Regions from separate parts of the Homo sapiens genome. Here regions 1 and 2 are each linked to region 3. The links come from fine-mapping of genetic effects on gene expression. A gene starts in region 3. Each other region holds a variant in brackets. All regions are shown on one strand. Distances are between the middles of the regions.

Evidence for each region. PIP is the estimated chance that this variant, and not a neighbour inherited with it, causes the effect.
Region 1: its variant is fine-mapped to the expression of SMARCD2 in cerebral cortex (GTEx, PIP 0.98).
Region 2: its variant is fine-mapped to the expression of SMARCD2 in whole blood (INTERVAL, PIP 0.97).

What each region holds. Positions count from the first base shown.
Region 1 is chr17:63,896,893-63,905,069 of GRCh38, forward strand. No RefSeq gene overlaps it. Among named protein-coding and RNA genes, the nearest start is that of CSH1, 4.4 kb to the left of the region's middle. The variant A/G (reference allele first, on the strand shown) is at 4,790.
Region 2 is chr17:63,812,391-63,820,567 of GRCh38, forward strand. DDX42 (DEAD-box helicase 42) reads left to right here. Exons shown (of 18, transcript NM_203499.3): 15 at 838-1,064; 16 at 3,173-3,283; 17 at 4,478-4,576; 18 at 5,304-6,927. The coding sequence ends at 6,008. FTSJ3 (FtsJ RNA 2'-O-methyltransferase 3) reads right to left here. Exons shown (of 21, transcript NM_017647.4): 19 at 7,865-8,048; 20 at 7,689-7,783; 21 at 7,043-7,604. The coding sequence ends at 7,412. Among named protein-coding and RNA genes, the nearest start is that of PSMC5, 11 kb to the right of the region's middle. RefSeq lists an enhancer at 7,435-8,177. The variant G/A (reference allele first, on the strand shown) is at 3,648.
Region 3 is chr17:63,838,783-63,846,959 of GRCh38, forward strand. SMARCD2 (SWI/SNF related BAF chromatin remodeling complex subunit D2) reads right to left here and starts at 3,903. Exons shown (of 13, transcript NM_001098426.2): 1 at 3,677-3,903. The coding sequence starts at 3,892. RefSeq lists enhancers at 507-801, 2,826-2,905, silencers at 507-801, 3,626-3,855, 4,226-4,395 and a cis regulatory region at 5,505-5,894.

The DNA of each region.
Region 1 (8,177 bases), 58 kb after region 3:
AGGATAGCCAGTCCTTGAGACCCCTACCGACCCCATTCCACTCTCTATCCTATTCCTTTCCTCCTCCCCGCGTGTTTAACTTCCACCCACCAGACAGAATGTGTGTGTTGGGAAAAGGGGCCAAGCACAGCCAATAGATTGTGGGGGTTCTGAGCACCATTGAGTCCTGAATTCCACTTTTGCTGATGACTCCTGGGCCCACCTGAGTCAGCTGGATGCAGTGCTAACACTGACCACTAGAGAGAACCAACCCCACACATTGCTCTCCCCTTTCCCTGAACCTTGGGGCGGAGGCGGTGGGGCTCCCCCAGGTCCCTGGGGATGAATAACCCAGACTCAAGGTATTGCCCCAGCTCCTTGGACCTGAAGCAGAGATACAAACCAAGAAACAGAAATCCCGGGAACAGACACGGACCACAAGCGCTTCCTCCCATAGTCCTGAAACCAACAGAGAATCTCAAAGTTGGAAGAGCTCTTGAAGATTTGAGTCTCTTCCCCAGCTTTAAAACTCAGAACACATCACGCCGAAAGAGGCCCTATCCAGCCATGGAAGCCCGTCCTCTTTTGTCTCTTCCTCCTTTCCAGACCTGTGTAGAGCTTATCCAGTTGTCAAAGGCCTGCCTGTGCATTCTCACGTCTGACCTGCAACTTGTCTTGTGTAGGAGGTATGAGTATCATCCCATTTCACAGATCAGGAGACTGAGGCTCAGAGAGACTGATTGCATGAGCTACCTCAGCCAGGGCAGCAGATCTCCACAACCTGGCTCTTCCCACATTGCGTCATTTAAAGTCCTTTCTCCAGGCCGGGCATGGTGGCTCATGCCTGTAATCCCAGCACTTTGGAAGACTGAGGTGGGTGGATCACTTGAGGTCAGGAGTTCAAGGCCAGACTAGCCAACATGGCAAAACTCCATCTCTTAAAAATACAAAAGTAGCTGTGTGTGGTGGCAGAAGCCTGCAATCCCAGTTACTCCGGAGGGTGAGGAGGTAGAATCGCTTGAACCCAGGACTCAGAGGTTGCCGTGAGCCAAGATTGGGCCATGGCACTCCAGCCTGGGCGCCAGAGTGAGACTCCATTTCAACAACCACAACAACGACAACAACAACAACAACAACAACAAAAGTCCTTTCTCCAGAGCAGGTGGTGTGGTGCTACTCAGTTATTTAGTTATTTTAGTTTCCTTTCTTTCTTTCCTTCTTTCTTTCTTTCTTTCTTTCTTTCTTTCTTTCTTTCTTTCTTTCTTTCTTTCTTTCTCTCTCTCTCTCTCTCTCTCTCTCTCTCTTTCTTTCTTTCTTTCTTTCTTTCTCTCTTTGTCTTTCTTTCTTTCTTGTTTTTGATGGAGTCTCATTCTGTCTCTGAGGCTGGAGTGCAGTGGCATGATGTTGCCTCACAGCAACCTCCACCTCCTGGGTTCCAGTGATTCTCCCGCCTCAGCCTCCCTAGTAGCTGGGATTACAGGCGCCCGCCACTATGCCGGGCTAAGTTTTGTACTTTTTAAATAGAGACGGGGTTTCACTATGTTGGCCAGGCTGGTCTCGAGCTCTTGACTTTAGGTGATCCACCCTCCCTGGCCTCCCAAAGTACTGAGATTACTGGCATGAGCCACCGCTCCCAACCCAGTTATTTCAGCTTCTATATCCCTCTGAGTGCAGGGATCCTGCCCCCAACACAAGGGGCCCTTTGCCTGATTTTGTCTTTCCATAAGGGGCAGATTGTTCTTTCTCAATTCTCAGGTGAGAATGGCCCAGTGGCATGGGGTGCCTTGTGGAAACCTCACAGCAGGAAAAGGTGAAGGCAGAGAAGGCCAGGACTGAGCCTCCTGTCTCCTGGTGCCCAGAGTTGGGGCTATTTCAATATAATCTGGAGGTCACAAGCATCAGATGCCCCCAGAGATGGCAGCAGGAAAGAGCACCCTCTCTAGTGGTGAAATCTTCCCCCCGAGTTTAAGAGCATCTAGCACTTGACTCTGTAGAAACACAAGCAAACAAACAGGCAAACGCTTCCAGAAGTGGTTGGCAGTGGTGTTGGCAACCAACATTGAACACCCACACCCCTGTGGCCTAGGATGTGAATGCTGGGGCCCTGCCATCTCCCCACTTTCAGAGCAGAAAACAGAGCTCCTTTTTCTGCCGTCATTCCTGAAGCATTACTGGACTAGCACCCCAGACTCATCATCTGCTGGGAGGGCACTGTGCTGTGAGCTGTTCTCCAGGCAGGCCTGTAGGAGGATCCAAGAGGGGTGTCATCGATGATACCAGCTCTGAGAAATATGGGGTCAAGGGAGGGTGGAGTCACCACTTTCCCCTGCTCCTTCCAGCACCAGCAAAGAGGAGGAGCCAGGTGGGAATGGAAGAGGGTCCCTGAGCTCCAAGTAGAAGAGGGTCCCTGCCTCCCCCACCATCCTTCCTCCAATGTCAGCTGGGACAGGGAGCCCCCATGACAGGGTCTTTTAGCCAGTGCTGGGGACTTAGATGTGGATTTTTGGCCATGGAAGAAGTCTGCAGCCTCCCTTAGGAAAGAGGGTGGCAGGGGCCCTAGTTGGGGACCACTACATAACTCCGCAGGTGGGCACACGGGTGGCGAGGCTCCCCATGCAGGTTACTGCCAGGAACATGTGGGACCTGCCAGGGCAGGGGAGTGTCTCCTCTCACCTCTCCATTTCTGTTGACCGCAGAATTATGGTGACTCAGAGGACTCTAGGAACCCCTGGGGAAACACCTTTGTAAGGGGTTACCATGCCAACCATGGACCAGAGGGAAGAACTGAGGCCCACAGGTGTGGGTAGAAGTCAATGATCATTTTCTCTAGTCTAGATCTTCCCAGAGCCTTGAGCAATGGAGACCATGTCTATCATTCATTGCTGGTAAAAAATCAACTTTGAATTAGACTTGGGATTCCCCTGACAGTACTGGGAAGTCGCTCACTGTTGGGGCATCACTTGAGGCCAGATCCCTGGCTGCTGCAGGCTGAGAGACTACCCAACAAGAGCCTCTATGTGGCCAGTGGGGAGAGGCTGCGCTTTGCACCTCTGGCGTCAGCTTCAAAAGGCTCAGGATAGGCCGGCGTGGTGGCTCATGCCTGTAATCCCAACACTTTGGGAGGCTGAGACATGTGGATCACCTGAAGTCAGGAGTTTGAGACCAGCGTGGCCAACATGGTGAAACTGATCTCTACTAAAAATAGAAAAATTAGCGGGGGTGGTGGCATTTGCCGATAATCCTAGTTACTGGAGCGGCTGAGGCACGAGAATTGCTTGAACCCGGGAGGCAGAGGTTGTCATGAGCCGAGATCACACTACTGCACTCCAGCCAGGGCGAAGAAGTGAGACTGACTTTGTCTCAAAAACAAGCAAACAAACAAAGAAAGAAACAAACAAAACAACGAAAAAACCAAAAAGAAAAGTAGAAAAATCCTCATCTCTGAGTTCACTGTTACCTAGCTCCTTACCCACCGAGAAACAAACATGGGAAGCAGGGGCCCCAGGGCCACCATGGACAGAGCAGCATTATATTTTAGTCCAAATCCATAAGAACACCCTAGGTTTCATCTGGGACTCCCTGCCCATACGGAAAGTGGGAAAGAAGAGTTGGCTCAAAGCAGGGAGCTGCTAGTGCTCCCTTGGGAAGGAAAGCTGTTGGGTGAAGGGGACAGCATTTGGGTGAGGGGAGGAGAGGGAGCAGGGGGTGAAGGTAGGGAGGGAGTGTGGTGCACTGAACTCAGCTCTTTGGGAAACTGTTTTTGCAGACAAGCCATGGTTAGAGGAATCCAGTTGCTCTGCCAAACAGACCTGGCTGGAAGGGATGGAACACACGCTCGCCTGCGTCCCAAAGGGAAACCCAGCTCCAGCCTTGGTGTGTACCTGGAATGGGGTGGTCTTTGACCTTGAAGTGCCACAGAAGGCAACCTAGAACCACACTGGAACCTACTGCTGCACAGCCACTAACCAGCTGGGCTCTGTCAGCAAAGACATTGCTGTCATTGTTCAAGGTAACCTTTGCTGCCCTGCTGCCAGGCCCAGGATGGAAACCCCTCAGGGGTTTGGGATTCTTATCCAAGCATGAAAATAAGAAAGATTCTACTAGGTTGGGAAGAATGAGACTCAGAAGTGGGCCTGGTGGGCTGGGGTGGGTGATCTTTGTACTCTCAGACTTTCCTAACTCTATCTTCTGTGCTTGGGCAGGACTGGATGAAGGAATCAGCTCTACCCTCTTTGTCATTATTACCGTTGCCCTTGGAGTGGGTGTCATCACCATAGCACTGTATTTGAGCTATCGGCCCTGCAAAGTAGACAGGAAGAAATTGCTCTACAGGCAGAAAGAGGAGGACAAAGAGGAGGAAAGCCAGTTTGCTGTTCAGGAAGAGAAAAGTGCAACTCATATAATTGACAGCTATTTGATTGAATGAGAGTTCTGCTACTGTGGTTTCCCAGGGATGGGAGAAGGGATAGAGGAGAAAGGAAGAAACACAATGGCAGGCTGCATTCCTATTTGTGTACATCTGTCCTGTAAAACGGTGTTTCAGGCCCCCATGCCCCATGTCCTGTGTGTCCAATATGTCCACAATCTCACCATTCTCTCTCTCTCTCTTTTTTTTTTTGAGATGGAGTCTCACTGTTGTCGCCTAGGCTGGAGTGCAATGATGCGATCTCGGCTCACTGCAACTTCAGCCTCCTGGGTTCAGGTGATTCTCCTGCCTCAGCCTCCCCAGTAGCTGAGATTACAGGTGCATACCACCATGCCTGTCTAATTTTTGTATTTTTCGTAGAGATGGGGTTTCACCATGTTGGCT[A/G]GGCTGTTCTCAAACTCCTGACCTCAAGTGATCCGCCCACCTTGGCCCCCCAAAATGCTGGGATTACAGGTGTGAGCCACTGCACCCAGCCACCTTTCTCTTTAGAGCTCACCCTAGTCATTAGGAATCTCAGTCTCAATGTTTGATTTGTAAGAAGGCCTCTTGCTCCTTGCCAGGTGCTTCATCAGTCCACTCTTAGATCCAAAAAAAAAAAGAAAAGATCTTGCCGTTTCTTCATGGTTCTCACTGCCCTTTTCTCTTAAACATCATACTACAGTCAGGCATATCTTAGAAATACAACTCATATTTCATGGGTTTTTGATTACTAACTGGGAGCTAAATTTGTAGTCCATGGACAGGACTTTGAAGGGAGTAAGTATCAAATATGGGGCCAGGAATCAGAGCTCTGTTCCCATCTCCACTTTCCCTTGCTCCCCTGACCTGGGCTTCTGGAGTGCCAGCTCCCAGAGCTGAGCTTGTTGACATCATTAAGGATCAGTGGCAAGCTGCAACTCAGTAACCATCTGTTGTGGGTCTTGGGGGAGTATACAGATGGTAAGAAATTCCACTTCGGGCCAGACAAGCATCGTATCTAGCCCAGTGTTCTGTCTCTGAAGTAGAAGGTAGAGTTCTTCCATGAAATTGGCCTCTTAGGTTAAGAGCTCCAAACATCTCTGAATTCCTTTTCATAGAGTGATCAACTGTGAGTTCGCATTTGCCAGTTTTCTTTTTTTTACCCATATAGGTGTCTAGGTTAGAGTTGCAATGTTTACTCTCTGTTTTCATCAAGAAGTGCATATTTTTTTCTGACTGTAAACAATTTCCTTGAAGCTTCAAGAGGAATCCTCTTGTGAAAATGTTCATATGATTTTATGGTTCAGCCTCCTTCCCTGTCCTTCGGAAAGAGTATATTCACCCTCGGAGAAGGCGTGAGGAATCACAAAACCAGATCTTTTCTCCCAAGTCAGTCAAGAAATGTTCACTGGAATGTTGCTATGGTAAAAATAAAAGTGGTTTTATGATGTCCAAATGCAGTTCCCTTCCCTTCTGTGTCATTGCTGAAAGCTCTTGTTATGTCAAATGGTTGCATTTTATCACTTTTTTTTTTTTTCAGATGCAGTCTCGCTCTATTGCCCAGGCTGGAGTGCAATGGCGTGATTTTGGCTCACTTCCACCTCTACCTCCTGGGTTCAAGGATTTCTCTGCCTCAGCCTCCCAAGTAGCTGGGATTACAGGTGCCCATCACCATGCCCAGCTAATTTTTTGTATTTTTAGTAGAGACAGGGTTTCACCATCTTGGCCAGGCTGGTCTTGAAGTCCTGATCTCGTGATCCACCCACTTCGGCCTTCTAAAGTGCTGGGATTACAGGTATGAGCCACCGCTCCCGGCTGCATTTTATAACTTTAAGTACAATTTCTAAGGAAAAAATACCGTGTTGATAGCATAAACAACCAGCCCGGGGCAGGGGGTGCATTAGCTCAGGGTGGCAGCCTATGTAAACTGCTTTCAAAACTGAAATTCAGGCCGGGGCGGTGGCTCAGCGTGTAATCCCAGCACTTTGGGAGGCTGAGGCGGGCGAATCACTTGAGCCCCAGAGTTTGCGAATAGCCTGGGCAACATGGCAAACCCCATTTCTACAAAAAACACAAAACTTAGCCAGGTATAGTGGCACGTGCCTGTAGTCCCAGCTACTTGAGAGTCTGAGGTGGGAGGATCACTTGGGCGCGGGAGGTGGAGGGTTGCAGCGAGTTGAGATCATGCACTGCACTCCAGCCTGGGTGACATAGCCAGACCCTGTCTCAAAAGCAAAACAAAGGAAACACAAGCAAAAAGAAAAGCTAAAGTTCAGACTTCCAGATAGAGAGAGGTCCATAGCTTTCCAAATTGCAGATACCAGCTAGAAAAAACCATGGCATCAGACAGCAGAGGGAAAACGTTTTCCCATTCTTCCCAGACCTCCCCTGAGTCTGGTGCTATAGATTAAGTGTAAAAGTAACCCTTTGGTTTCACCACATACAAGGCAGTGGGGATACAGTGGTGAACAAAACATTGTTCCTGGCTTCCACAAATTTATTAGGAAAGCAAGACAAACAAGTAGGAGATTACATTTGTGCATGAACTCCTATGACTGGGAAAACAGATTGTTAAGAGAAAGCATAACTCGAATCAAGGAAGGCTTCCTGGAGGGACACGAAATATCTTGACTTTATAAAATAGCATCATCCCCGAACATGACCTTTTCAACCTCAATGTTTCCACTAGGTGGAGCTACTGCTCCTTCATCATGTGAGTCTAATATAAATCATCCACCTTCCCTGAATTGAGCATTTGGGGAAGTAAGTTAAGAAGCAGGTTTAAGAGACAGGAGTATACAGCCACACCATGCAGGGATCCACAGCCATTTTGGTGTCAGGATCAGTCGCATCAGGGCTGTAGATATCCTGTATCTGCAAACCCTGCCTCATGGCCTCAGTGCCTTGAAGCACAGCGAATCCAACAAGGAAGGGGAAAATGAGCCAGGCATGGTGGTGTGCACCTGTAATCCCAGCTACTGGGGAGGCTGAGGCAGGAGAATCGCTTGACTGTGGGAGGCAGAAGTTGCAGTGATCCGAGATCGTGCCATTGCATTCCAGCCTGGGCAACAAAGCGAGACCCCATCTTGAACAAAACAAAAACAAAAGCAAACAAAACCAAAAAGGGAGGAAGAAGGGGGCCACTTGGACTTTCTAGTTCCAGCAGGGCGAGCCTGGAGGCTCAGCCGGCTGCTGCCTTTGCTTCTCACTGCTACAGGGTGTCAGTGTTGACAGATGGTCCCACACAGTACCCTCAAACCAAGCGGGTCTGCAGATCTGGGTTCCCACCTGCTGTAGATCTCTGAGGGAGGATGATCTGCTTCTTCGGGGCCTGGTCCAGCTCTGCAGGTGTCCTCTTGCTGGGGTTTCCAGCTTTCCAGTTCTTAGAGCTCAGTAGTTTGGATGAGCCGTCCCGCAAAGCTCTTCAGAGTAGGCTGGGCTTTTTCCCTTGTAGACTTGGAACCTCTGTTCACTTTCCTTCCCGAAGGATCCACACAACCAGAGATCAGGCAGGCCTTTCTCATTGATTCTTTTTTTTTTTTTGGAGACGGAGTCTCGCTCTGTCTCCCAGGCTGGAATGCAGTGGCACGACCTCGGCTCACTGCAACTTCTGCCTCCTGGCTTCAAGCAATTTTCCTACCTCAGCCTCTGGAGTAGCTGGGATTACAGGTGTGCACCACCACACCTGGCTAATTTTTGTGTTATTAGTAGAAACAGGATTTCGTCATGTTGGCCAGGCTGGTCTCAAACTCCTGACCTCAGGTGATCTGCCCACCTCGGCCTCCCAAAGTGCTGGGATTACAGGAGTGAGTCA
Region 2 (8,177 bases), 26 kb before region 3:
TACCACTTTTCACTTAGTATTTCTCTCTAATCAAAGAATCCCTGCAGCTAGAAGTCACTCTGGGAAAAAAGGCAGTGAATGCCCTTATTGTATGTCTGAATATAGTAGATACCTTACCCTTACATTGATCTACTATACACAGCTTAGTTGGGCAACTTAACTCAGGATGAGAACAGTTTTTGGAATATAATTTCTGGATTTGTTCTGTCAAGTTTTAATAACTACCCTTAAACACTGATATTTTTTCCTAGAAAGGAGAGAACTTCTCAGCTTCATGACACATTTTAAATATATATTCCCAGTGCAAGAGAAGAGGGCATGGCAGATTACTGATGCAAAAGATAAAAGTCCCAGTCGGGCACGGTGGCTCACACCTGTAATCCCAGCATTTTGGGAGGTGGAGGCGGGCGGATCACCTGAGGTCAGGAGATCGAGACCATCCTGGCCAACATAGTGAAACCCCGTCTCTACTAAAAATACAAAAATTAGCTGGGTGTGGTGGCGCGTGCCTATAATCCCAGCTACTTGGAAAGCTGAGGCAGGAGAATTGCTTGAACCAGGGAGTCGGAGGTTGCAGTGAGCCGAGATCATGGCACTGCACTCCCGTCTGGCAACAGAGCAAGACTCCGTCTCTAAAAAATAAAAGTCCCTTACACTAGAAGGCCTAACATCATAGAATCTGTGGTGGTGACTTAACATGCCTGTATCTCAGCTCACCAAACCCATGCGCTTTGCCTAGATAAAGGAAATGTGGCTTATTAGCACTAGCATTTCTGGTTACTTTGATCTTCTGACTACAGATGAAGAATAAAAGAATTTGGTTGCTTTTTATTTCAGCCCGTGGTCTGGACATTCCTTCAATTAAGACTGTCATTAACTATGATGTGGCACGAGACATTGATACCCACACGCATAGGATTGGCCGCACAGGAAGAGCGGGTGAGAAAGGTGTGGCCTATACCCTACTCACTCCCAAGGACAGCAATTTTGCTGGTGACCTGGTCCGGAACTTGGAAGGAGCCAATCAACACGTTTCTAAGGAACTCCTAGATCTGGCAATGCAGGTGAGGGGCTGGGCACACTTTCAATTGCTCCTGGTTATAAGACCAAGACATTTTAGCAGTCCTGGAACAGATAACATAAAAACTTGACAAGAAAGTTGGGTGGCTAGGAGGATGTGGGGCTTATGAGGTACAGATAGGAATTGTGAGATACTAAAATTCATCTAGTCTTATCTGGTCTTCTTCTTTCAACAGCATCTGTTTTGAAAAGCTATTCCTTTGTGCTAAAATCTGTCGCTGTAATTTCTACCCCATAGCACACTTAGGAGTAAATTTAATCTCAAAGATGGTTACTATTCTCCTTACTGCTCTTCCCCCACAAAATTTTTCTTCTGGGAGGCTAAAAATGTGTGATGCCTTTAAAACAATATGTGTATAGTATAGTGCCCCCCCACCTTTTTTTTTTGAGACAGAATCTCACTCTATCGCCCAGGCTGCAGTGCAATGGCACGATCTCGGCTCACTGCAACCTCTGCCTCCTGGGTTCAAGCAATTCTCCTGCCTTAGCCTCCCAAGCAGTTGTGATTACAGGCGCCCACCACCACGCCTGGCCAATTTTTGTAATTTTAGTAGAGATGGGGTTTTGCCATGTTGGTCGGGCTGGTCTCGAACTCCTGACCTCAGGTGATCCGCCCGCCTCGGCCTCAACCTCCCAAAGTGCTAGGATTACAGGCGTGAGCCACCGTGCCCAGCCTGTATGGTGCCTCTTAACTGTTCCTTGCAGAGATCTCAGACCTCTGACCACACTGATTGCCCTCTTCCAGGTGTGCTCCAATCTAAAGCTAAGTGAGGCATTCTAACAAATCAAACCTGGAGTCATCTGAATCCATGCTGTCCCCAAATTACAAATGGGTTCGGAACACTTTCTGAGAGCAGAAACTGTTAAGAGTTTGTCAAATGCCTAGGCCAGCTCACACAACTGGTACAACCCAGCTGCAATGTGGCAGTGCCCAAGTTTCTGGTCCTAGGAGTAAAGGACCTGCACTGCAGGAGAGAAGAGAATAATGTTTCCTCCCCTGCTCCTGAGCACAGAGAGCTAGTCCTAAATAAACTTTTAAAACAGGACACATTTTGACTTTGGCATTTTCTTCCATTTCTTTTTGTACCTCAGGCTTTCTGTGCTCAGGACTTTGTCCAAGCCTGCTGCCCTACCTCTCAAGCACTTTATTTTGCTGGTAATATGTGATTGTCAGATAAAACTTTAACCTTCCCAGAGACATTTGCTTTTTTTTTTTTTTTTTTTTTTTCTTTTTTCTGAGATGGAGTCACACTCTATCACCCAGGCTGGAGTGCAGTGGCGCAGTCTCAGCTCACTGCAACCTCTGCGTCTCCGGTTCAAACAGTTCTCCTGCCTCAGCCTCCCAAGCAGCTGGGATTAGAGGCATGTGCCACCATGCCTGGCTAATTTTTGTATTTTTAGTAGGGACGGGGTTTCACCATGTTGGTCAGGCTGGTCTTGACTCCTGGCCTCAAGTGATCCGCCCACCTCGGCCTCCAGAGTGCTGGGATTCATAGGCGTGAGCCACCGCCCTGCATTCTTAAGAGAATGTGAGTAAATATGTTGAGTGGCAATGGTCAAGTTCAATGAAAACTTTTACGCTCTGCGGGTAAATAAAATTTTCAGTTGTGTGGCTACCATCCTTTCTGGGAGTCTGTCCCTATAGTCAGTTCTGATAAGCCTCACTTCACATAGCATTTTTCCTTTGCTTCTGAACATACCAGTTGTTTAAGTTCCAAATGTTTACGTCCAATAATACATGGTTTGAGAAATAAAATATAAGCTCATTTTCCTCAAGGAAGTTAGAAGTAGCCAAAGTTACTCCTCTGGGTTTGAAGCTTACCTGAACAACTTCCCTTCCAGGAGAGCCTTGAGGGAGGGAGCACTGTAGGAAGCCTTAGATAAGGATCTCAGCCACTTTTCAAATTTGGTGGATTATGCTACCAAAGAGAAACCAATCTGTGGTTCCTGTGAAAATTCCTCCCTTAGCGTAGTGCTGGCTGAAAATTAAGCAAAAGTTCCCCCTTCCCACTTAATTTCCTCTTTGTCCTCGTTCTCTTCTTCTGTTCTTTTCTCCCTCCCTTGACTTAACCTTGAATTTTGTTCAATGCAGAATGCCTGGTTTCGGAAATCTCGATTCAAAGGAGGGAAAGGAAAAAAGCTGAACATTGGTGGAGGAGGCCTAGGCTACAGGGAGCGGCCTGGCCTGGGCTCTGAGAACATGGTGAGTCTAGACTACTACAGTAGTGCCTTTATAGTTGGTCTCATGTCCTGAAAGTCATTAGGAATATTCTCATCTACCCAGGAAAGCCTCAGTGAGTTTAAAGCCCTGTCTAGAAGGGAATTTGTATTTAATCTGATTTGAGTCAATGCAGTGCTCATTCTTATGGTAACTTTCTATTGAAGAAGCATCTTTGTGTACTTGGTTGACTAGGCTTGCTCAGGAAATTATTCTAGATTAGCAGTGATCTCACACTGTGGTCCCTGGACCAGCAGCACATGCAAACTCATCCCCAACCCCAGACCTTGTGAATCAGAAACTCTGGAGTTGGGGCCCAGCAGTCTGGTTTTATAAGCCCTTCAACACT[G/A]GCCTAAAGCCTGCTGCTAGGTAAATGTTGCCAAAGGGTCACTGTAAAGTCTAGCCATATCTTGTCATTAAACTCAGGAACGGATCAGGAATTTCCAAGTCGGGAGCTAGTTTTTCTCACAAACCAGGTAACAAATGTACCCTTTTGGTGGCCTTTCTTAACTGCCTGTTTTCTGTCACCTTGATTCCAAGCCAGGGAAGAAAGCTGCCAGTATACTTTTCTGGAGCATTAAACTTGGCATCTTTGTAATTACATACTCTGTTCCCACATTATAATAATAATGATGATGATGCATAATAATAGGTAATATTTATTGAGCACTTTATATGTGCCAGGACCATTCCAAGCAATCAGATGTTTTGGCTCAGTTAATCTTCAAAATAACTGAATGGAAGTTAGTACAGATAACAATGCTGAGGCACCTAAGGTTACAGTGACAAGTGTTCAAGCCGAAATTCAGACCCTTCATGGTCTTGATTCAGGGCCTGAGCAGTCACACAATATGCTATTCAGGGCCTTTTCATCTTTAACGTAATTTTTACTTAATTAATTGGAAGTGTTTATGTAAATACATGATCAACTTTGGGCATAATCTGATTGCATTTCTGTTTAATAGGGTTAATTTCCAGAAATAGAATTTCTGGGTTGAGGGCATAAGCATTTTTAAATGATTGTCACTGTGTCTTTTCTCACAAAGCAGTAGCAGCTTTCTAAAAGTATCCAGTTCCTTTGTAGCTCCCACTTCAAGGGTTTTCATAATGAGGCCTAGTCTATAGCAGTGAGCTTTCCTGCTTATTTTTTCATTCTCATAGATGTGTTTATTTTTTTAGGATCGAGGAAATAACAATGTAATGAGCAATTATGAGGCCTACAAGCCTTCCACAGGAGCTATGGGAGATCGACTAACGGCAATGAAAGCAGCTTTCCAGGTCTGAAATAAGCATTTCATTAAAAGCACTTTCAGCAGTAACTCTTGGGCAGTGACAGAGGGGCTTAGTTTTCCTGGTTGTAGCTGGGCGCCTAGGCTTGATGCTAGATTTAGGGTCTTCACGCTGCTTGGATTTTGAATATAAACCTAACAGTAGCTTAGTTGGAAATGCAAGTTGATCTAGAGAACCCCTTGTGCTGGTCTACTTTGAGTCACACTTGGGGCCTGGGATTGTTGTCCTGCAGCAGGGTGTGTGTTCCCTCCCTTCCCAACAGCCTGAAGTGTTGCCCACCTCCCAGGCACCCACCTCCAACTCACTTCTGAAGCAAAATTTACTGATAGTCACACTAAGGTGAATCGATAGAATGAGTTCAAGGCAGGTTTTGCTGTCAAACTTAAATTGCAGTATGAAAATTTTTTTTAAGTTTTCAGAACTTTTTGGTTTTGAATGCAGATAAATGTGCTAAATACATAGATGCTTTATTCTAGCCAATCAGGCTATAAAAGTACATTTCAGAACACTGGGGGTCCATCTCTCCACAGAGATCCACAAGTTTTCCTTTATAGCACAAGAACAAAAGGGACCATACTGTGGGGCCATCAGGACACTAAACTCACAGTGCCAGGATAGCACAGAGTTTCTGTAAACCTCATCATTTGCCAAGTTGTATATTCAAGTTTCTTGAACTTGCTATCTTACCTACTCCTGATGTCTCTTTCTCTTTCAGTCACAGTACAAGAGTCACTTTGTTGCAGCCAGTTTAAGTAATCAGAAGGCTGGAAGTTCTGCTGCTGGGGCAAGTGGGTGGACTAGTGCAGGGAGCTTGAATTCTGTTCCAACTAACTCAGCACAACAGGGCCATAACAGTCCTGACAGCCCCGTCACCAGTGCCGCCAAGGGCATCCCAGGCTTTGGCAATACTGGCAACATCAGTGGTGCCCCTGTGACCTACCCGTCTGCCGGAGCCCAAGGAGTCAACAACACAGCTTCAGGGAATAACAGCCGAGAAGGGACTGGGGGCAGCAACGGGAAAAGAGAGAGATATACTGAGAACCGGGGCAGCAGCCGTCACAGTCACGGAGAGACTGGCAATCGGCATAGCGATAGTCCACGTCACGGAGATGGTGGTCGCCATGGAGATGGATACCGCCATCCAGAAAGCAGCAGCCGTCATACTGATGGCCATCGGCACGGGGAGAACAGACATGGAGGAAGCGCAGGCCGGCATGGGGAGAACCGGGGTGCAAATGATGGTCGGAATGGGGAAAGCAGGAAAGAAGCTTTTAATCGTGAGAGCAAGATGGAGCCCAAGATGGAACCCAAAGTGGACAGCAGCAAGATGGACAAGGTGGACAGCAAGACAGATAAGACAGCTGACGGCTTTGCTGTCCCAGAGCCGCCTAAACGCAAGAAAAGTCGATGGGACAGTTAGAGGGGATGTGCTAAAGCGTGAAATCAGTTGTCCTTAATTTTTAGAAAGATTTTGGTAACTAGGTGTCTCAGGGCTGGGTTGGGGTCCAAAGTGTAAGGACCCCCTGCCCTTAGTGGAGAGCTGGAGCTTGGAGACATTACCCCTTCATCAGAAGGAATTTTCGGATGTTTTCTTGGGAAGCTGTTTTGGTCCTTGGAAGCAGTGAGAGCTGGGAAGCTTCTTTTGGCTCTAGGTGAGTTGTCATGTGGGTAAGTTGAGGTTATCTTGGGATAAAGGGTCTTCTAGGGCACAAAACTCACTCTAGGTTTATATTGTATGTAGCTTATATTTTTTACTAAGGTGTCACCTTATAAGCATCTATAAATTGACTTCTTTTTCTTAGTTGTATGGCCAGGCAGTCCCCATTTTAGGAGTTGGCTTCTGCAAATTCAATCCATTGAGCTAACTGTTGGGGAGCAATTTGGTAGTTGTAGACATTTGCAGGGAAGGGAGATGTCTGATTCTAAATGGGAGTTGATGCTCAGGTCCCCAGCCAGGTTTGCATCCAGCCCTGAGACATGTAGGAAACACCTTTCAGACCCAGGCTCTGAAGATTCCCAGAAGCCACAAGGATTGAAGGGAAAAGGTGATCCTGGTAACTGTTCCAGGATTGCTCCAGGTTTGAGATGGTATTGCTAAATTTAAAATTAAACAAGAAACCCAACAACAGCTTTTAAAGTGTCTTCTATCTCATTGTATTTTTTTTAACTTGCCCCAATGATAGAAAAGTCTTTTGCTGAAATGATTTTGATGATTTTTGTTTATCGTTTATAAAAAGGAAAAGAAATATACAAACTTTGACTTTTGTGACTTTGTGAAGGTTTCTTTAAGATGTGCATTCCTTTCTGCTTGCTCTCTAGTAAATGTTTTACTACCGGGACCTGTGGATCGTTTGTCATTTCTGTCTATGAATTGGTACATATTAAGAATAGTGCCGCACACAGTGTAGGGACAGATAGGGAAGTGCTTATTAAAACTGTCAGAAAAGACAACTCTTCCATTATCCTGGTTTTATTCAGGAATAGGATGGGGGTGGGGAGGGCTTAAGTGGCCCACACGTCCAGGTGTAGACTGACTACATTGAGTATCGCTCCAACACCGAACTTCCCTTTAACGGTTTAAAAAAAGGGTCATGAGTGTCAACACAGTTCAGCAGTGTTTTCATGGGAGACCTTCAGGCAGGCAGGAGGACATCCTCCTCTCTGCTCAGGACCACCACGGGAGTTCTAGGCACTCCACCTCACTGTTCTTCAGACAGCTGTGATGTGAGCAGGGGCTAGGCCGGTAATCAAGGGGGCCAGACTGAGCCATGCCACACCCTTCCTCCTAGTCCCCATGCTCTCCTGGGAGCCTGGCAGCTCTGCTTACTTCCGTTTGTGTTTTTTCTTTTGTTCCTTACGTTGCTGTGCTCTTTGGTCCTTCTTCATCCTTGAGTCCACCACCTTGAAATGACCTCTGACTCCAGCTGGCCGGCGCACTTTGCGGCCCACACCTTTTTTGGCTACAACGTAGGTGACATGGCGTTTCTCCTTGCCAAGCCCAGCCTTCTTGTAGAGACTACAGGGGGGAAGAGAAGAGGTTAGAGGCTTGCTTTCTGCTGCACTTTTAGCCCTGTGTACCTTTGTGGTGTCCTCCCATTACCTTCGCAGCTGTGCCACTTTCTCTCGTTCTGAGATGTCCACTGTGTTCACCACGGCTTCTGCCTTCTTCCTGGTCTGCTCCAGCCTCTTCAGCATCTGCAAAGGAACCTGTCAGGTGACCTCTTCCCCATCCCCCCACCCCCACCCCACCCAATCTCTGGAGGCCCCATCACTTACCCTCCTTTTCTTTCTAGCCTTAGCCTCAGCCACCTTCTTGATGGGACGTGCATTGATTTCCCGCCAGCGTTTCCGGTAATGCTCCACCTCCTTCTTACCAACAGGCAACTGTCGTATCCGGTGCTGCTTTTCCTCTTGCACAAACCACTCCGGAAGCTCCCCCTCATCCTCATTAAATGTGTACCTGAGTGGAAAGGACATCTGTCTAATATCCAACATTCCAGGCTTTCTAAAGAAATTACCAGACTGGGCACGGTGGCTCACGCCTGTAATCCCTGCACTTTGGGAGGCTGAGGTGGGCAGATCACCTGAG
Region 3 (8,177 bases):
AACCAGCCAACCAAGCCCGGCAGGGTGGAGACTTGTACCAAATCAAAGGACCCTCCCCCACCCCAGCATCATGGAGATGAGATTCTTCCCCAACCTCTTCATCCCGCACTAAACCCATGTTCCCAACACAGAGGGTCAGATTCTTGACCAGATGCGGAGATGGAAAGAAACATGACCCACAGACGTGAGGATGGGGAGAGGAGGAGCAGGGTGGGACGGAAGTGTTTGGGAGAATAAAAAGTTCAAAGTGGGGGGCTCTGGGGCTTTGGGAGTCCTGCCAAAGTCTCTCTGCATCAGGAAGAGATTAATCAGAGCTGTTGAAAGGCAAAAGACAGCCTCTTTCTCTGCCTTAAAGATTGTTCTTTCTCTGGCCTGAGATTATAGAAAAAAACTAAGTGTGGCTACAGCTGTAAGCCCAGGCCCAGACATCCCAGACTAGTTTTTCCTAGTGCCTGAGACAAAGACAGGGAAGAACTGAAGCAGTGGGTCCTGCAGAGGTGAGCGAGGGCCCTGTGGTCCCCAGGAAGCTCCCTGCTGCAGTGTTCACAAAACCTGCAGCACCACCCATCCCTCCTGGGCAGGTGCTCCGGTAACAGGAAGTCCCAAGACAAGGCCTCATAGGCAGGGTCTGGAATAGGCTCCACCCAGACATCTGCTCCAGGTTTCCTGGGCCCAGAGCCCCTGGCTCACTCAGGGCCCCAGGGGAAGGCTGCTTATAGTTCAAGTCCCAGCTGAGCCTTGCCAAGCTCCATAGGGCTTATAGGCGCTAGCAACTCCTCCCACTTCAAAAAACAAAACAAAACAAAACAAACAAAAAAAAACAACTCAGGAGTTAAAGAAAAAAAAAAAAGCAGTCCAGCACTCTGAGCCTCCCTAACTCCCTGCCTGCAGCAGGACCAGGTAGGCCTGGATCAATCCCCTGAACCCCAGATGAGGAATCCAGGGCTCCGGTGAGCGTGCTTTGCCCTGCCCCAAATGTGGCCCTGATGCTCCTGGAACCTGGGCCTGAGGGCCTCAGTTGGGGAACATACCACCCACTCTCCCATGAGTAAAAAGGATTTTGAGGCCGGGTGCAGTGGCTCACGCCTATAATCCCAGCACTTTGGGAGGCCGAGGCGGGTGGATCACAAGGTCAGGAGTTCGAGACCATCCTGGCCAAGATGGTGAAACCTCGTCTCTACTAAAAATACAAAAAAATTAGCCGGGCGTGGTGGTGGGCGCCTGTAATCCCAGCTACTCAGGAGGCTTGAGGCAGAGGATTGTTTGAACCTGGGAGGCGGAGGTTGCAGTGAGCTGAGATCATGTCACTGCACTCCAGCCTGGGCGACAGAGTGAGACTCCGTATCAGAAAAAAAAAAATTTTTTTTTTGAACTTTTTGAACTCTCTGGAGTGAACCCAGCAATCTGAGGTTTTTGTTATTTTGTTGCCCAGGCTGGAGTGCAGTGGCAGGATCATAGCTCAATGCAGCCTTGAACTCCTGGACTCAAGCAATCCTCCTGCCACAGCATCCTGAGTAGCTGGGACCATAAGCGCACACCACCATGCTTGGCTAAATTTTTTTTTTTTTTTTTAAGAGATGATGGTCTCACTATGTTGCTTAGGCTGGTCTTGAACTCCTGGTCTCAAGTAATCCTTCTGTCTGGGCCTCCCAAAGTGCTAGGATTACAGGTGTGAGCCCACCATATCCTGCCCTGGAGGTTTTTTTCTTTTCTTTTTCTTTTTTTAGGTTCCTCTGTTAACTGTGATCCACAGCTAGAACCACCCTCTGGAGGAAGGGAGGTCATCACTTCCCTTCTTTCAACTATTTGCTCAGCTTGGGCCTCAAATTCTCACTTTTCAAGTGCATCTCATGAGCCCTAACAGACAGGAACCCCTTTGTTTCCCAGATCTCAAGTCCCTTCTCCTGGCAGTCATACAACTGGACTTGGAAAGAAGGCAAATAGGATCCTCTTCAAACTCAGCCAAAGTTAGCTGGCTGGGTTCTCCTTCCCATCTACCTCTCCTGCCAGGAGGAGGAAAGCTAGTGGGATGGGAAACCCAGACTCAGGGCCATCTCCTACTTCCGCACAGCTAGCAGCCCAGGCCTAACCAGCCAGCCAGCTTGGCCTTGCCACAGGCCCAAGGCCACCCCCCACCAAAACATGTGGAATCCATCCTCTCAGGGGCTGTCCCAAGGGCACATTTCCTATGGCTTGCATGCCAAGGAAACTGGAGCGGCTTGTCTGTTCCAGGTCCTTCCAAGGCCAAAGGCCCACAGATGGTGCCCAGGCCAGGTCTCAGTGGGCAGGCCCAAGGGCTACAATGAATGATGCAGGGAGCCCTCAGCAACACCCTGGGCCCATGAATCCCCAACGGGGACAGCAAGGTGGGAGAGATGAGCCCCAGCTGGAATCCCTGGGACCAGGTCTGTCTCTGCCCATACCCAGACTCTCTTTTCTCTTGAGAAAGGAGGAAGAATGAGGAGTAAGAAGGAAAAAAAAATCCAGTCACTGTCCCTAGTTAAGCCATCTCCTTAGAAGTGAGGGCCCAGTGGGGCAGGTAGGCTGTGTATACTCCACGAGGATCCCTAAGGACCTCTGCCTGGAGACATGAGTCGAAAACAGAGGAAGCCCACAGCAAACCCGTAGATGAGCAAGAAGCCAGTGTCAAATGCTTGGGCACATGGCTTCGGACGTGGTGGAGTTAGAACCTGAAGGCCAAATAAAAATGCAGAGAGGGTGACAAGGCAGATGGGCACAGTTTCCAAGCCCTCTGGGGCAACCTGAACAGCAGACTAGAGCACTGGCAGGGTCAGGCTGAGGTCCTCACACACTGAGCAGAAGTCGCTGCTTTGCAAGGGCTTTTGAAGCTGCAATCTGAGCAGCTCTCAAAACCCCAAAGGGGTCAGGACAGCACTCTTTGAAGCAACTCTCGCAGACTCCTCCGGCCCCAGACCAGCAGGGCTCCACTCTGCACGTCCAGACTAATCAACTCCCGGACACGATGACAGGAGGCAGAAAGCCCAGAAGAGAGCCGGCCTGTGACTGGGCTGGGCCTCCCCTCAGGCCAGGCCACCACCGTCTCTGGTCTAAGCTGGAGTCCTCCCAGCGAAGGCGCCTGGCCCTGCCTCAGGAGTAAAGTCCGCCCGTGCACAAGCTGGAATCCCCTGGCCCTAGCCTCAGCGTCCCGTGCCCGTGGGAAGCCAGGCTCCTTCCTCCTTATTAGCAGCCGGGAGCCATCTCAGACACGCTAGAGCTCCGCCAGTTCCCAATCAGAAAAAACAGGGCAGACTTGGACTGGGACCAAGGCCGATGCAGGGTAACCCCGGTTTCTCAGCGAGGGCCCTTTCCCAAACTTTCTCATCACTTTCCAGCCCTCCTACCCTAGACTTCTCAACCCACCCGCCACAATTCACTGGCTCCCCAAACTCCTCCATCTCCCAGTCACTCGGAATCCCTGTGCCGCGGAAGCCCCCAGGCCTCCCAGCTGCTTCCAGCCCTCCGCTGCAGAACCTGCTTCCCCTTCCCACTTCTCCACCGCGACCCGCCGCAGCCCGAGGGTCCCGGCCCGCCCTCCACCGTCTCCCGGAGTTCCTCATGCATTCCCCAGGGCCCTCACTCGAGGCCCCTTCAGCCGCCGGCCCGGGCGCCCTCGCAGCGCCTCTCGCCCCCGTCCGCTCGCGTCCTCCTTGCTCACCTGGTACTGCGCCGCGGGGCCCGCGGGGCCCATGGGGCGGAAGGCGGCGGCCCCGGGGCCCCCCACGCCTCCTGCCGGACCCGGTCCCCGGAGCGCCGGTCCGGGCAGCATGCCGGGTCCCGCGGGGGGAGGCGGCGCTCCCAGGGCCGCAGCCACGGCGCCGCCGCCAGGGCTTAGCGGGGGCAGCGGGAACCCGCCCGCGCCTCGGCCCGACATCGCTCCGTCCCGTCCCGCGGTGCCGCGATCCGGACTCCGGGCTCCGCGTCGAGTCCACTCCGTGCTCTGTGCTCCGCGATCCGGGACTTGGCGATCTTAATTCCGGGTTCCGGGATTTGTCGATCCGGGCTCCGGGATTTCCTAATCCAAGTTCGCGAGTTCCTCACAGACCCGGTTCGGGACAGATTCCGCTCCTGCCCGGGAGATTCCGGATCCAGGATCTGCTGCGGGCCCGCCTTCCGTCCCCGGCCTCCGGAGGTTTGGCCGCCCGAGTCGAGTTACCCAGAGGCGGCTACGAACTCCCTGCCCCGCCCAACCCAGCCCAGCACTAGGCCCCGCCTCTACCTGGTGCCCAATGCTCGAGTGCCTCCTCGAATCCTGCCCCTCGCGAGACCCGCCCCCAGCGGGCACCGCCCCTAACTGCCGACCTCAGAGCCCCACCCCCCCACCTTTGGCCCAGCCTTTCGTCGGAGGGGCGGGAGCGGAAGCTGCGCGCGGAAGCGCCGAGTGAGGCGCGGGGTCAGAGGTCTAAGGTCACTTAGGGGCTTCACAGTGAATGAGCCGTTGCTACTACTCTCTCCCGGTATAGCACCCTCACCGAATTCCGCGGCCACACTCCCCGAAAATAGTTTTGTCAAGTCTCCTTTCTGCATCTTCGGCGTTAAAGACTCAACTCAGAGTCGGTAGCTGTGGCTCACGCCTGTAATCCCAGCGCTTTGGGAGGCTGAGGCGGGCGGATCCCCTGAGGTCAGAAGTTCGAGACCAGCCTGGCCAACATGGTGAAAACCCCGTCTCTACTAAAAATACAAAAATTAGCCGAGTGTGGTGACGGGCGCCTGTAATCCAAGCTACTCGGCAGGCTGAGGCAGGAGAATCGCTTGAACCTTGGAGGCAGAGGTTGCAATGAGCCGAGATCGCCCCACTGCACTCCAGCCTGGGCGGCAAGAGTGAAACTCATCAAAAAAAAAAAAAAAAAAAAAAAAGACTCAGCTGCTCTGTGGGGCAGAACAGCAGCCAACTCAACTTCCTGTAAAAGCTCATGCTGGTAGCTCGGAACTGCCAAGGGACCTAGGAGGCTCCAGACTTGACCCAGCTGGTGAACGGTCGACTTGGCCAAGGCTGAGTTCTACCGCACATTTTTAACGTGGCTCCGCCTCACTTTAAGGAAGCCTGGTACTTTACTCCCCAGAAAATGCTTCTAGTCAAAAGAAATTTGGCTTATGAGAAACCTCCCCGCAGTTTAAAAAAAGAGGTCTTTCTCCAGTATTTATAGCACTTAATTTTCAAAAATGCAGTATCTTTTCAGGTACACTGTGCTGTATCAAAGTATTCAAAAATGCGTCAGCTGTGCCAGGGAGCCTACCCTCTGATGGTCTGGATCTCCTCGCCGTGATATGGACCAGTGCTGCTTAAACTTTAATGAGCACATAAAAAACACTCGAGGCTCTTATTAAAAATGCAGATTGTGGCAGGGCCCAGGACTCTGCATTTGTAACAAGCTGCCAGCGATGCTGTTGCTTCTCAGACCACACTGTCAAGAAGCCGGGATCTAGACTTTTTTTTTTTTTTAGTTTTTTTACTATAATTGCTTTATTTTTCCAGCCCCAACCAAGTAATACTTCCTTCCTTGCATCATAGCACCCCAGATCTTTTTTACAGTATAGTTCTCCAGTGCTTTTTAGAAATTAGTTCTCCTCATGCCTCTAGTGATAAACACCGCTGCTGCTGTTTTCTTACCTCCTGAACTTAGAGATCCCACTCTATTGCCCCAAGAGTCGATAACCTGTCAGTCTGGGGACTGGCCACTGGAATTGTTAAAGTCACTGAATCATGGCCCCTCCCATCCCTGTAAAGTGGGTTAAGAGTTCATGATAAGGCAGCTAATATCCATTTCAATCCTTTTAAGCTTCTAGAACAACAGTAATTCTCAAAGTGATAGGGGCAGTGGAGAATCAGAGTCCTCTGGGAAGCTACTCCAAAATACCTCCGCCAGCCACCCCTCCAATCCAATGGCTCTCAGTATTGTATTTGAAAAATAAGCTTCCTAGGTAATTCTGATGCGACCCAGTGGGTCGCATCAGAAAACACAAGATTTTTTCTACCCTAGAAAAGGGGCAAGCTAATAAGTGCATTTAAAAGCAGATCAGCTGGGTGGAGTGGCTCACACCTGTAATCCCAGCACTTTGGGAGGCCAAGGTGAGTGGATCACTTGAAGTCAGGAGTTCGAGACCAGTCTGGCCAAGATGGTGAAACCATGTCTCTACTAAAAATATAAAAATTAGCTGGGCGTGGTGGTGCACACCTGTAATCCCAGCTACTCAGGAGGCTGAGGCACGAGAATTGCTTGAACCCAAGAGGCAGTGGTTGCAGTGAGCAGAGATCGTGCCACTGCACTCCAGCCTGGGTGACAGAGTAAGACACTGTCTCAATAATAATAAAGCAGATCAAACGGTTAAATATAACTCAGTTCCTGTCAATCCCTTGTTTAAAACCCTCCCCAGCTCCCCATTGCTCTTAGATTGAATGTCACACTCCCTCCTGTGACATTTAAGGCTCTGCAGGACCTGGTCCCTGCTTACCTCCTTGGGTTCATTTTAAATCACTGCCTTTGGCTCTCCAAGCATTGGCCCAGATGGTCTCCTTGCAGTTTTTCAAACTACCCATCCCCTTCCCATCTCAGAGCCTCTCTGTTCTCTCACACCCTACTTCCCACCAAGTGATTATCACAGTACATCATTACTTAAGTGTGTGCTGATTTACTGTCTGATGTGGCTCACCCACTAAAATATAAACTCTACGAAGGCAGGATCTTTTTCTCTCTCAATTTATCTTTTTATTTTAAAATTTGTATTTTTTTAAGACAGTGATTTGCTAGGTTGCCCAGGCTGGCCTCAAACCCCTGGGCTCAAGTGATAGTTCCTGAATAGCTGAGTAGGTATACACCACACCTGGCTATTTTTTTAAATTGAAGTGAGATTTACGTAATAAAATTAACTGTTTGAAATTGCACAATTCAGTGGTATATATTACATTCACAATGTTGTGCAACACCTCCTCTACCTAGGTCCAAAATTTTGGGGTCCAAAATAATGACCCCAAAAGAAAACTCCATCCTCATTAGAAGTTGCTCCTCATTTCTTCCTCTTCCCAACTTCTGGCACCCACCAATCTGGGTTCTGTCTCTAGATTTATCTATTCTGGATACTTCATATAAATGGAATCATAATAGGTGGGTGTTGGGCATGGCTTCCTTCACTTAGCATAATGTTTTTGAGGTTCATCCATTTTGTAGCATGTATCAGTACTTCCTTTCTTCTTATGGCTGAATAATATTCCATTGTATGTATATAACACAATGTGTTCATCTGTTTGTCTTTGTATTTATTTGTTTATGACAGCATCTCGCTGTGTTGCCCAGGCTGATTTCAAACTCCTTAGCTCAAGTGATCCTCCTGCCTTGGCCTCCCAGAGTGCTAGGATTATAGGCATGAACCACCATGCCTGGCCCTATCCATTTATCTGTTGATGCGCAGTAGGGCTACTTCTACTTCTTGGCTATTCCAAGTAGTGCTGCTATGAATATATATTTGTATTTGAGTACCTGTTTTCAGTTATTTGGGGTATATACTGTGTCTCCCTTGATCCCTGTTGTAACTTAACAAATATGTATGAACAGACAATGTTTGAGTGTAGTGGGAGGGAATGATAAACAATAATATAATATCAGTTAATATCAGATATATCAGATAATATAAACAATGAGTTAACTGTGTTATGATAAAATATCCTTAAGGTGTTAGGGAGCAAATAGAGATATCTGAGGCATGGTAGAGATAAAAGGAAGATTTCCTACACAGTAGGCAGAGAATAGGTAACATTTACTGAGCATTTTCTACGTGAATTAGCTCATTTAATCATCACAACACATAGGAGGTAGATACCATATATGAGGTACACACTATTTTTACCTCTTTTTTTTTTTTTAAAGAGTTGGGGTCTCACTCTGTTGCCCAGGCTAGAGTGCAGTGGCATGATCATAGCTTGACTAATGGGGCCTCAAACTCCTGGGCTCAAGCAATCCTCCAACCTCTAAAAACTCCCGAGTACCTGGGACTACAGACACCAGCCTCTATGCCTGGCTCTATCTCTGTTTGAGAAATCAAAGCATGGAGATCCAGTCACTTGCCCACCCTCACTGTGATGGTGCTAGGATTCATCAAACCTGTTTCTGATCTGGCTCTAGAATCCAGTCTAGGGACTAACCATTACTTACCACCGATTTTTG